Regions from separate parts of the Homo sapiens genome. Here region 2 is linked to region 1. The links come from fine-mapping of genetic effects on gene expression. Tissue or cell type: whole blood. Region 1 holds a variant in brackets; the other region holds the start of a gene. All regions are shown on one strand. Distances are from middle to middle.

The links. PIP is the estimated chance that this variant, and not a neighbour inherited with it, causes the effect.
Region 2: MAP3K1 starts here. The variant in region 1 is fine-mapped to the expression of MAP3K1 in whole blood (INTERVAL, PIP 0.95).

Annotation. Positions count from the first base shown.
Region 1 is chr5:56,326,407-56,331,554 of GRCh38, forward strand. All of the region lies in intron 2 of LOC105378977 (a long non-coding RNA gene), which reads left to right. Among named protein-coding and RNA genes, the nearest start is that of ANKRD55, 96 kb to the left of the region's middle. The variant G/A (reference allele first, on the strand shown) is at 2,780.
Region 2 is chr5:56,813,448-56,818,595 of GRCh38, forward strand. MAP3K1 (mitogen-activated protein kinase kinase kinase 1) reads left to right here and starts at 2,102. Exons shown (of 20, transcript NM_005921.2): 1 at 2,102-2,608. The coding sequence starts at 2,127. RefSeq lists enhancers at 1,330-1,459, 2,911-3,734 and silencers at 1,820-2,589, 2,660-2,779, 2,960-3,199.

The DNA of each region.
Region 1 (5,148 bases):
CAGAGGCTGAATGGCCCTGCTGTGTTTCAGATTTCCAGGCTCCAGGACTGTGAGGGAAAACATTTGTTATTTTAAGCCAGCTAGTTTGTGGTAATTTACTACTTCAGCCTCAAGAAACTAACACAGATATTATATGTTGGTATAGTATTTTTTTGGTTTCTAAAATGCTTTGGCATGCATACATGGCTTCATTTGTACCCCCTAATGGTTTAGTTTGGGGACCCAAATCCACCATGAAATGGCTGTGGGATTTTGTGCAAGTTGTCAACCTCTCTGGCCTCTATCTTTTCATCTGTAAAATGAGGCAGATAATGATGCTCGCACTGTGTCCCCCACCAAAGTACTGTGAAGATTAAATGGAAAGACACGCTCATGGACTTGCTATACTGACAAGTTGTATTTGATGCTGAGCTCTCTTTACCTATCCTTGGGTGACAGCTCCCTCACTGCCTGGAAGAGGATATGGGCACCATAAACACACCTAGAGGGAGTGTGGGCATGCTTCTGCCACCTCCTTCACCAGCATGGTGTGAGGCTGAGGGTGAGGGCTGGGTGTGGAGAGCCCAAGGCCACTGGGAGACAGGACAGGGAGGGAAGTTTAACAAGACTGTGCTTTGCCATGGGTTCAGTCATCTCATGAGCTGAGGCTTGGGGTCCCAAGGCTGACTTCTCAAGAAACATTTGGTCTAAGAGCAGAAAGGCGGAAAGGTCTGTCCCTATTAGCCCTTGTCCTCTGCATGATCAGAAGCCAGGGACCACCCGTGAAGGTGTGAGTAGAAGTTCATTTTCCTGCTGACCTTTCAATCCAGAGCCTTTGGGTGATGATGGCTCTGAAAGGTGGTAATTAGTGCTAATCGAGGTGATGGTTTTGTGAAGCTGACACCTATCCATTAGGAAATGGACTGAGGCCAAGGGACCAGCCACCCCACCAGGGGACAAAAAGCTAAAAAATCAATGCGTGGCCAAACTCTGCACAATTAGTGTGCTCCTCCAACCATGCTTTAGTGCACAAAGGGAACCCTTGCAAGGATAGAAAATGGGAGCTCCAAGGTTGAATGCCACCCTAAGCCTAGGAATAGAGACATAAACAATGACAAGGAAGAAGAGACACAGTGGGAGAGAGAAGAGGAATGGCGGGAGGGCAACTCGGTGTGCTTTTATGAGGGACAGAATACACTCGGGCAGCTGAGAATAGCACGCAGTAAGCCAAGGGCACTCACTCATCTACATTCAGTATAAAGCGATTTCCTGATTTTTCATGAGTTATGCCGCTTGCATTCTATCAAATTTGTTTCCTGTTCCTTTACTCCAGTGAGTCTCTGCAGGTACCCAGAATTCTGCTAAAATTTGGCATCATCAAGGAACAAAACCTTCACTCATGTTATTGCGATAACTTTATAACTTCTCTTTTCCTTATGCCCCATCCAAACCATCCTCTACACTTAAGCACAAGTGAATTTTTAAAAACACAAATCTGAAAGTGTAACTCCCCTGCCTAAACCTTCCACTGGCTTGCTATTGCTGTTGTACTTAAGATAAAACCTCAAGTCTGCCACATGGTCTGGCTGTTGCCGACCTCCCCAGGCACTCTGCGTGCCGCTCTCCCCACCACTCTCCGCCCTCCTTTCCACCCTCTGTTCTGGCTATGAGTCTTCAAGTAAGTCATTCATTCATGTACATATAGTATAAGTATGTATGTATGTAGACATATACGGAAGCAGATAACCAAGTTAGATATCCGTTTGACTAGAAAGCTCTTTCCCCTGTAATGTGTATGCCTAACTGCAATTTTTTGTTCTTCTGACACACACAGAAGCCTTCTCAGACTCTCTCCCTTTAATTATGTTCCCCTTATTAATTTTTCATAATTCTCATAACATTATTTTCACCTTAATAGCTCTTACTACAAATTATATGTGTGTGTATGATTCATGTGTATATATATATATTCATATTAAAAGATCAATTAGTGTTAGCTTTTAAACTAATGTAAGAGTCTTTAGAAACAGGCAAACAGATTAGAAACACTTTTCTTCCTTTTTTACTTCCTTCCTTTTCTTTTTTCCTTCTCTTTGCTTTGTTCTTTTCTCTTTTTTTTTTTAAATACAGGCATAAATATAGAAGGGAGGATCATATATATGTGTGTGTGTGTGTGTGTGTGTGTGTGTGTGTGTATATATATATATATATGTATATGAATCATAGTTTGCCTTTTTGCTCCTCCACTAAATTGTTAGCTCTAAGAAGTGGGACATGTATGCTTTGTTCTCTGCAGTAAATTCAGTTCCCCAACCCCAGATATTCTGGGATTTGATTGGTCAGGGGTGGGGTGGGGTCTGAGCACCGGCCTTTACTGAAAGTTCCTCACATGGTTCTCATGTACAGCCAAGTGGAGACCTGTTTATCTAACCCACCTTCATCATTTTAAGAAGGAAGGAGCTGAGGCCCAGAGAGGTCACCTGACTTGGTCAAGGTCTCTTGGAGCTGGCTATAAGCAGATTGAGACAAGGACTCAGTTCTTTTAGGGCCTGGTCTCTTTGCACACTATAATGTCCCTTCACTTAAGTTGGAGAAGCTTTATCACTGAGTAGAGAGAGGTTTCTTTCATATTTTTGCATTCTTGGAGGATGACTAACTCATGCTTGTTAGCCTGGGACTTTCCAGGTTTTAGCGCTTTAGGTCCTGTGGGTCTCAGGTAAAGGAAACAAAAATATGCCACTCCAAAATATACTTCTTTGGTATATTTTGATATGACTATTCACAGGAACTGCAAACCACA[G/A]GAAAAGCTTTGAAAAGCTGTCTTTTGGGGAGGCGGGGAGATTTGCATCTGTAGAGGAAATCTACATTAGTGAAATGAAGTTAACAGCAGACACAAACAGGGTTTTATAAGGCCTCCCTTATCCAGACCTAGGAAAGATTAAATCACAGGAAAGAGGGACTAAAGTTCTGACACTTCAAAAGGTCTGACAGATAAAGTTTTACCACATAAGAGCAGGATACTGTCTGTTCTTTCCGAGGGCTGCTATCCATGGGGCTCTATCTGCATAACAAGATAGCCTTTGCTCACCATGCCTTTTCTCCCCTCTTCCTCCAATAACTTGTCTTGCCATGCCCCAAGCCTCTATTCCTTGCTGTATGGTATATAACCTTCAGCCATCTGGCTTTCCATTGAGTCTCATACTTTGTGTGTGGCTTCTGTGTCCATATGCACATTAATAAAATTTGTACACTTTTTTTTCCCTGTGAATCTGCCTATTGTTAGTTTGTTTTATAGACTCAAATTATTTAAACTTCAGAAGCAAGAGCGAAGGAAATTCTCTTCATCCCTACCCAGGCAAGCTGAGATGGTTGACATCACTGTTTGCACAATCACTAAGTCCAGGTTAGGAAAGAGAAGCAATGCCATACGGTGATTGAAACCCAAATTCTAAAGCTAGACTCACCTAGGTTTGAACCGTGACTTGTCAATTAGATGATGACCTCAGGCAAGCTTCAGTTTCTTTATGTGTAAGAAGGGAGAAATAATGTTGTATGCCTTAAACAGTTGTTGTGAAGATGAAATTAGCTAATATTTGTAAAGCACTTAGCACAAAACATTGTTCATAGTAAAAGATCAATTATGGTTAGCTTTTAAATTGATGTAAGAGTCTTTAGAAATGGATAAAATGATAGATATACTTTTCTCCCTTTTTTCTTTCCTTCCTTTTTCTCTTTCCTTCTCTTTGTTCTTTTTTCTTTTTAAAATGCAGGTGTAAATATAGAAGGGAGATGTGTTTCTGAAGGTCTAGCAATTGCTAGAGCACTAAAATACCTCTTTTTTTTTTTTTTTAACCAGCGCTCATTACTGTCTGTCAACTCTAAATGCCACCCAGACATTTCTAGGTAGTGCAATTTTGCCCTGCCAAGTGAAAGCATTTCATGACGCTCAATCATTAGGCAGCTATTTAAAACAATTTTCTTTCAGAGCTTCTCCTTCCCTTGGGCATTCATGCTGAAGACTCTGTCAAAGTGCCTATTTCCTGGAATCTGGCTATAGCAGACTTCCCAGAGGTTGGTACACCAGACTAATCATTTTTCTAAGGCAGCACTGGAGCCCTCAGGATACCAGTTGAATCTGATCCACATGGTAGCTCTGGGAACACAAAATGCTAATGATGTGGAACTTAGGCCACTGGTATTTATTCTATTGTTGTTTGCTTATTTATTTATTATCCGTGCAGGCCAACCAAAAGATAAATTTGGGACCAACCTCAAACAAGGTAATTGGAGTGTTCATTCAGTAGTCTTAGCTTACTTGTACTGGCCATCTTTATGTCTTTAGTGAGTCCATATTAGAAATGACGGTGTCTTTTTAGAAGGATGAACTAAGCAGAAATGTAGAAAAATCAGAATTTTTGAGATTCAACTTTGAAGACAACCTCCTCCAATTCCTTGGAGAGTATTTTGCTCATTTAATACTTGGTTACATTGTAACATTTTGCAACCCACCAGGAAATCACTCTAACAGTAACTGCTCGTCAAACAGTGACAAGAGGATTTGGGGAAGGCAAACAGCTGCAGATTCAGATGTGGGAGGGAGGTGGGCAGATGATGGGGGAATGAATCTTGAGTGTCCACATGCCAGGGAGAGGCTCAGCCAGGAATGACACTCCAGGGTGACTGACAGTCAATGAAACTTGCCATTCTAATCAGCAATAAAAAGGAATGAGCTGTTGCTATACACACAACAGGGATGGATATTAAAATAAATGTGCTGAGAGAAAGAAGCCAGACCAAAAAAAAAAAATAGTGCCTACTGCCTTTCATTTATATACAATGCTAGAAAATGGAAACTATTTCACTGTGACAGAAAGCAGATTAGTAGTTGTCTGTGACTGCACTGCCACCATTCAACCTGTTTCTTAGGTCAGTAATTTGGCATCACCTTGAATCTTCCTTCTCGCTCTCGCTCCTGGTGCCCATTGACTCAGTAGACAGGCCCTAAAGAGTCTACCTTGTAAATTTTGTTCATAATCACCCTTTTCTCACTGTTTTCATGGTCACTTTCTTAGGTCCAATCTTCATACATCTTTTCTATTTCTTATTTGTAGTAGTCTCTAAATGGTTTCCTTCCCTCTATTTCCTGCCTATTCTAATTTATCCTTCATA
Region 2 (5,148 bases), 490 kb after region 1:
AAGAAAAAAATGACTCAAAGCAACAAAAACTGTGGGAAAATACCAACACTTAGGTTTCTCCATGGTAATACGTGGTGGATGGAGGAAGTGAGAGAATTGTAGCTAGTTCATAGTGCTGCGCTGGGTAGCCCTCTCCCTTTGATCCCCAGTTTCAACCACTGTACAAACAGTCAAAAATCAGTTTTGCTGGAATCTCCTTTTTACTCTGCTACTCTGGCTAAAGTCTTCCACTTACTTTTCTCACTTACAGGTACCTGAATATGTGCGTGCAAATGTAAAAGTCTTTAGATCAAAATAGGAACAAGGAAAGTTTATCCGTTTCAGTTTAGGATTTGGTGGGTGTGGCAACCCAGGAAGACCTGAGAAATAACCACTGTTTGGTTTGAATGATACATTTGACTGCCATTAAAATAGCATATAATTATAGCCTAAATGTAGACTTAATTTTTAACAGATTTATCTGAACTTTCAAAATTTGTACCGTTGGGTGTAACGATCTAAAACTATCTTATGGGAGATGTTACAGCAGTTTTCAAATCATTGAGCTAATATGAAATCTGGACTTTTTAAAACCCCTCTGATCTAACCTGGTTACGCAGTTAACATTGTATCTGGGAAAGGGGCTTTCATTTTACCTAGTCTCCAGAAGTCAATGGAATTATTCTGTAAATAGTTCAGGCTTTTGTCTAAATATGTGAAGACTGACAAGACTATCTCCGTGAGAATCCGCACCCCCCCACCCCAACCTCCCCCCTCCTTAATCATGTTTCACAAAGTAAATCTATAGACGTTCCTCCTGGGTTTTGGGAGATTCCCCATCCTAAACAAACCAGCTGGAGGAAAGGAAAGGAAGGAAGAAATAAACGCAACACAGAAGTTCTCCTCAGTTGACAAAAGGTCAAAAATCATTAACGTGTAAATGTTGCTTTTTCCATCCCAAAGCACCTTCTCACGTAGAGTCCAGGGACTAGGAGGACTCACAACGCAGCGATGGGCAGCCAGGCCCTGCAGGAGTGGGGACAGAGGGAACCCGGCCGGTGGCCCGACCCTGCAGGGAAGAAGGACGTGCGGCGAGAAGCATCGGATTCGGGGAGGGCCGGGACCTGGCCGAGGGTGACATTACCGAGCACTTCCTGGCACAGCGCTGGTCCCCTCCCCAAACGCGCTATATGTGGTTCTGTACGGGACTGCCTTTCCCAAAGACAGCCAAGGAAAAACTAAAGATCGACGGGGACACCCGCCTCCCTTCCTCGCCCCAACGGTTTCTCAGAGGCTGTGGGGACTTGGTGAGGGTAGGGGGTAGTTGTCCCAAATCAGCAGCTTCAGGATGTAAGGTATTACAGAAAACTTTGAAGTTTTGTTATCTGTAGCACAGGGACAGGGGTGGGACAATAGAGAAGGAATGTTTTCTTTTCAAAAGAAAACACAAACAAAACTTTATTTTTCTGGTCCGCGGCAGCCTGTCTGCTGAACGTTGACTTGCTTTCGCTTTGCAGCAGGCGACGGTCCCGGGCGCCACCTGCGCGTCGGTGGGAGGCTGGTCCACGCCCGGGTCCCCCGACGCCCACTGCAAAGGGCAGTGGGAATGACAGACTGTAAACCCTCTCGCCTGCGTCCCCTTCAAGCACCAGAAACCCAAGTTGGAACTAATTCTTTCTTTCGGAAGGTGCAACTCCCCTCCCGCGAGCTCCGCGGTGCCGGGCCGAGATTGCCGAGAGGAAGCGGCGCAGCGCTGCCGCCAAGGCTCCTCCTGTCGCCGGTGCGGCCGGGACTACCTGGCGGCGCGGCGCGTGCAGCGCGCAGAGTCCCGGGAGCCCACGCCTCCGCCTCCGCCCCCGCCCCCTCCGCCTCCCAGTCCACCTCGCCCGCCCGCCCTCTCGCCCGGCGGAGAGCACAGCCCACTCCCTCCCACCTGCGGCCGCCGGGCCGCCCTCCACCCACACCTCTGCCGCAGGCCGGACCCAGTGCGCCCGCCCGTCGGTCAGTCCAGGCCAGGCGCCCGGCGGGCCGCGCTCACGCAGTTGGCGCAGGAGGCCTTACGCTGGCGGCGCAGTGCCCGCCCCCTGCGCTCTCCCCGCCCCCTCCCTCCCTCGCAGGGGCCGAGCGAATGTAGCCCGCGAGAGAAAATGGCGGCGGCGGCGGGGAATCGCGCCTCGTCGTCGGGATTCCCGGGCGCCAGGGCTACGAGCCCTGAGGCAGGCGGCGGCGGAGGAGCCCTCAAGGCGAGCAGCGCGCCCGCGGCTGCCGCGGGACTGCTGCGGGAGGCGGGCAGCGGGGGCCGCGAGCGGGCGGACTGGCGGCGGCGGCAGCTGCGCAAAGTGCGGAGTGTGGAGCTGGACCAGCTGCCTGAGCAGCCGCTCTTCCTTGCCGCCTCACCGCCGGCCTCCTCGACTTCCCCGTCGCCGGAGCCCGCGGACGCAGCGGGGAGTGGGACCGGCTTCCAGCCTGTGGCGGTGCCGCCGCCCCACGGAGCCGCGAGCCGCGGCGGCGCCCACCTTACCGAGTCGGTGGCGGCGCCGGACAGCGGCGCCTCGAGTCCCGCAGCGGCCGAGCCCGGGGAGAAGCGGGCGCCCGCCGCCGAGCCGTCTCCTGCAGCGGCCCCCGCCGGGTGAGCAGCACGGCCGGGGTCGCGGCGGGGACTTGGAGAGCGGGCAGAGGGCAATGAATGAACCCCGGGCACCATGCACGGCGTCCCGGGGTTCAGCGCAGCGAGGCTACGCGCCGCTCGCCGGGACCTACGCCCCTGAGCACCCCCCGACCCCTTCGGAGTCGGGCGGCGCCCCGGACCCAGCCTGGGGGACCGGACGGGGACGTGCGGAAGAGTTTGTTATTGTTTGCAGACATGTGACAGGCGTGCGAGCCTCTCTGCGGGGAACCGTTGCGAAAAGGTGTAGGGGGCCACGGCTGGCTTTGTGGGACTCCTGGAATCGGGGCTCTCCGAGGAGCCCGGGGGCGGGGCACGGCCCTGCGGCGGCGCCCCCGGACGGGTGTCCCCGGGGCAAAGGCACTGGGGGGCGAGGCCCGAGCCTGAGGCGGGCGGTGGTCGGAAGAGGGGCGGGGTGGGTGAGAAGCCCGAGGTCGGGTGGGAGACTGAGAGGACCGAAGAGAAAGTAGCAGGTCCCAGCGGCCGTGACAGGCAGAGCCCCTCGGCCCGCCCGGGACTCGAGTCCCTAGGCAGATACCGCGGGCTGGGCCCGGACGCAGGCGGCGCGCCCCCAGCGCCGGCCGCAGGGCTCCAGGAGGACGGCTCGGTAACGCCTGTCAAAGCCGTGCGGCGGGAGGCTGCACACTCGCGGAGGCTTGCAGTCTTTTAGGAAGTGCGGTTTGTCTAATTGCAGCCCCCAAGGGGCTTTGAGTGTTCCTGGGAATGCGAACTGCACTGCTAAGTCACTTGAGTGACTTCTGTTTGGAGTTTGAATTTGGCCTTTGAAGTTTGCATTTGGCGGAGTGGTGTAAGAGCCAGGACCGGATGTGTCAGCCATTCAGTTTCAAAGCAGTGGTGACTGCTCCCCGCAGCCCCTCCGGCTTGGCCCGGGGACTGCGGCGCGGGTGCAGTGCTTCCTGCTCGGTGCCCTGGCGCGGGCCGCCCGCTGAATTCCAGGGGCCGCAGTGCGGTGGGCTTCGGCTCAGATGCGTCTTCTGGTGCATATGAAGTACAGTATGTGTAAGGTAATTTAGACCAGCGGTTTATTGGCCTCGCCCATTTTTGGCTACTGGAAATTTTTATGTTAAAGGAAATTCTTTTAAGTGTGACAGCTACATCCTTGTTTGTTTGTTTTTTAAAAACCTGATTAACGTATGCAAAGTACAAAGTCTTGATGGGTATTTTGAGTTGCTGGAAATGTTTTTGTGATAGTCCCTCGTGGCCCTGTAGAATTCCCTGACCTTTATTATGAGAAGAAAGCGTGTCATTTTGTGAGACGAATTTGACAGTAGGAGTCCTTGGTTTGGATTCATTATCTAAAGTGATCTGGCATTTTTTGTGCATTTGATTATTTGCTTAAAATCACGATCCATTTAGTATTTGGAAGTCCCCTTCCTCTCCCCAAGAACTAAAAAATATGCTTCGCACTGTACCATGGCACTACTGAGACCAAAGGAGATTTGTGACTGATACAGTTTTGTGTGCACTTGTACATGTAATTTATTCTTACAAGAGTTATGTACCTCTATAGTTTTCCCATTTCTGTGCAGATTGTATTAAAACTTAACTGGAATAATTCTTTGAAGGCAACTTCTACTTTAAATGAATTCCAGATAAAAATTTTTAACCCCAAATTTAAGAAATTGTATCTATTGAGACCTAACTTTTTGGATACAATAAATAATTTAGCAAACGTCAGCATTCTAGTACTCTTAATGAGCTGTGAATATAGTAGAAGAGCATCCACTGTAAAAATAATGTACTGAAATTGTTTAATGTTGTCTCTTGACACAAAATAAGAGGACTAAGGTGGAGGCAGATAGAATTTAGGGACTAAGTAATCCATGCTTAGTATTTGCGTTTTGTAACCGAGGTTTTTTCCCCTTTGCTTAAGGTGTAGATTATAATTGCACAGTATAAGAAAATAATGGGCTTGTAAGGATAATCTTTTTTAAAGAAATTATTTTTACGAGTCAGAATGCTGTTGGTTTATCCCAAATGTCATACGTAAAGATTTCATTTATAGTAAAATGTTGATTCCCTAACCTTATGAAATATAGTGAATTTTTTTTTCTTAACAATTGGGTTGAAATTCATTTGAATCTGTTCGTATAAAACTTTGTGGGGAAAGGGCTTGTATCTTATTTGAGTGTGTATATTTTGTATTGCATGTTGGTTATGCTACACTATTACTTACCATTTAAAGTTTTAGGAAAAAAAACCCTTAATTATAGCCAACTCAATAAAATATCAATTGAACTTTATGTTTTACTTTTTTTTGACAGTTAAGTTACATTCATACTTCCAAGAGGAAAATCTAAGATTTTGAAATATTTGAGAGTTCTGTGATCTTTTTTTTAATTTTAGAATTTCCTTCTGATCTTTGAATGTAGAAAATATACTTTGAATTAGAATTTATATAAATAAATAATACTCGTATTTAAATAGAAGATTTTAAGTTTGTCCCTCTTTTTCAGGGTGATAGCTGAAATCAGTGAAAGTGC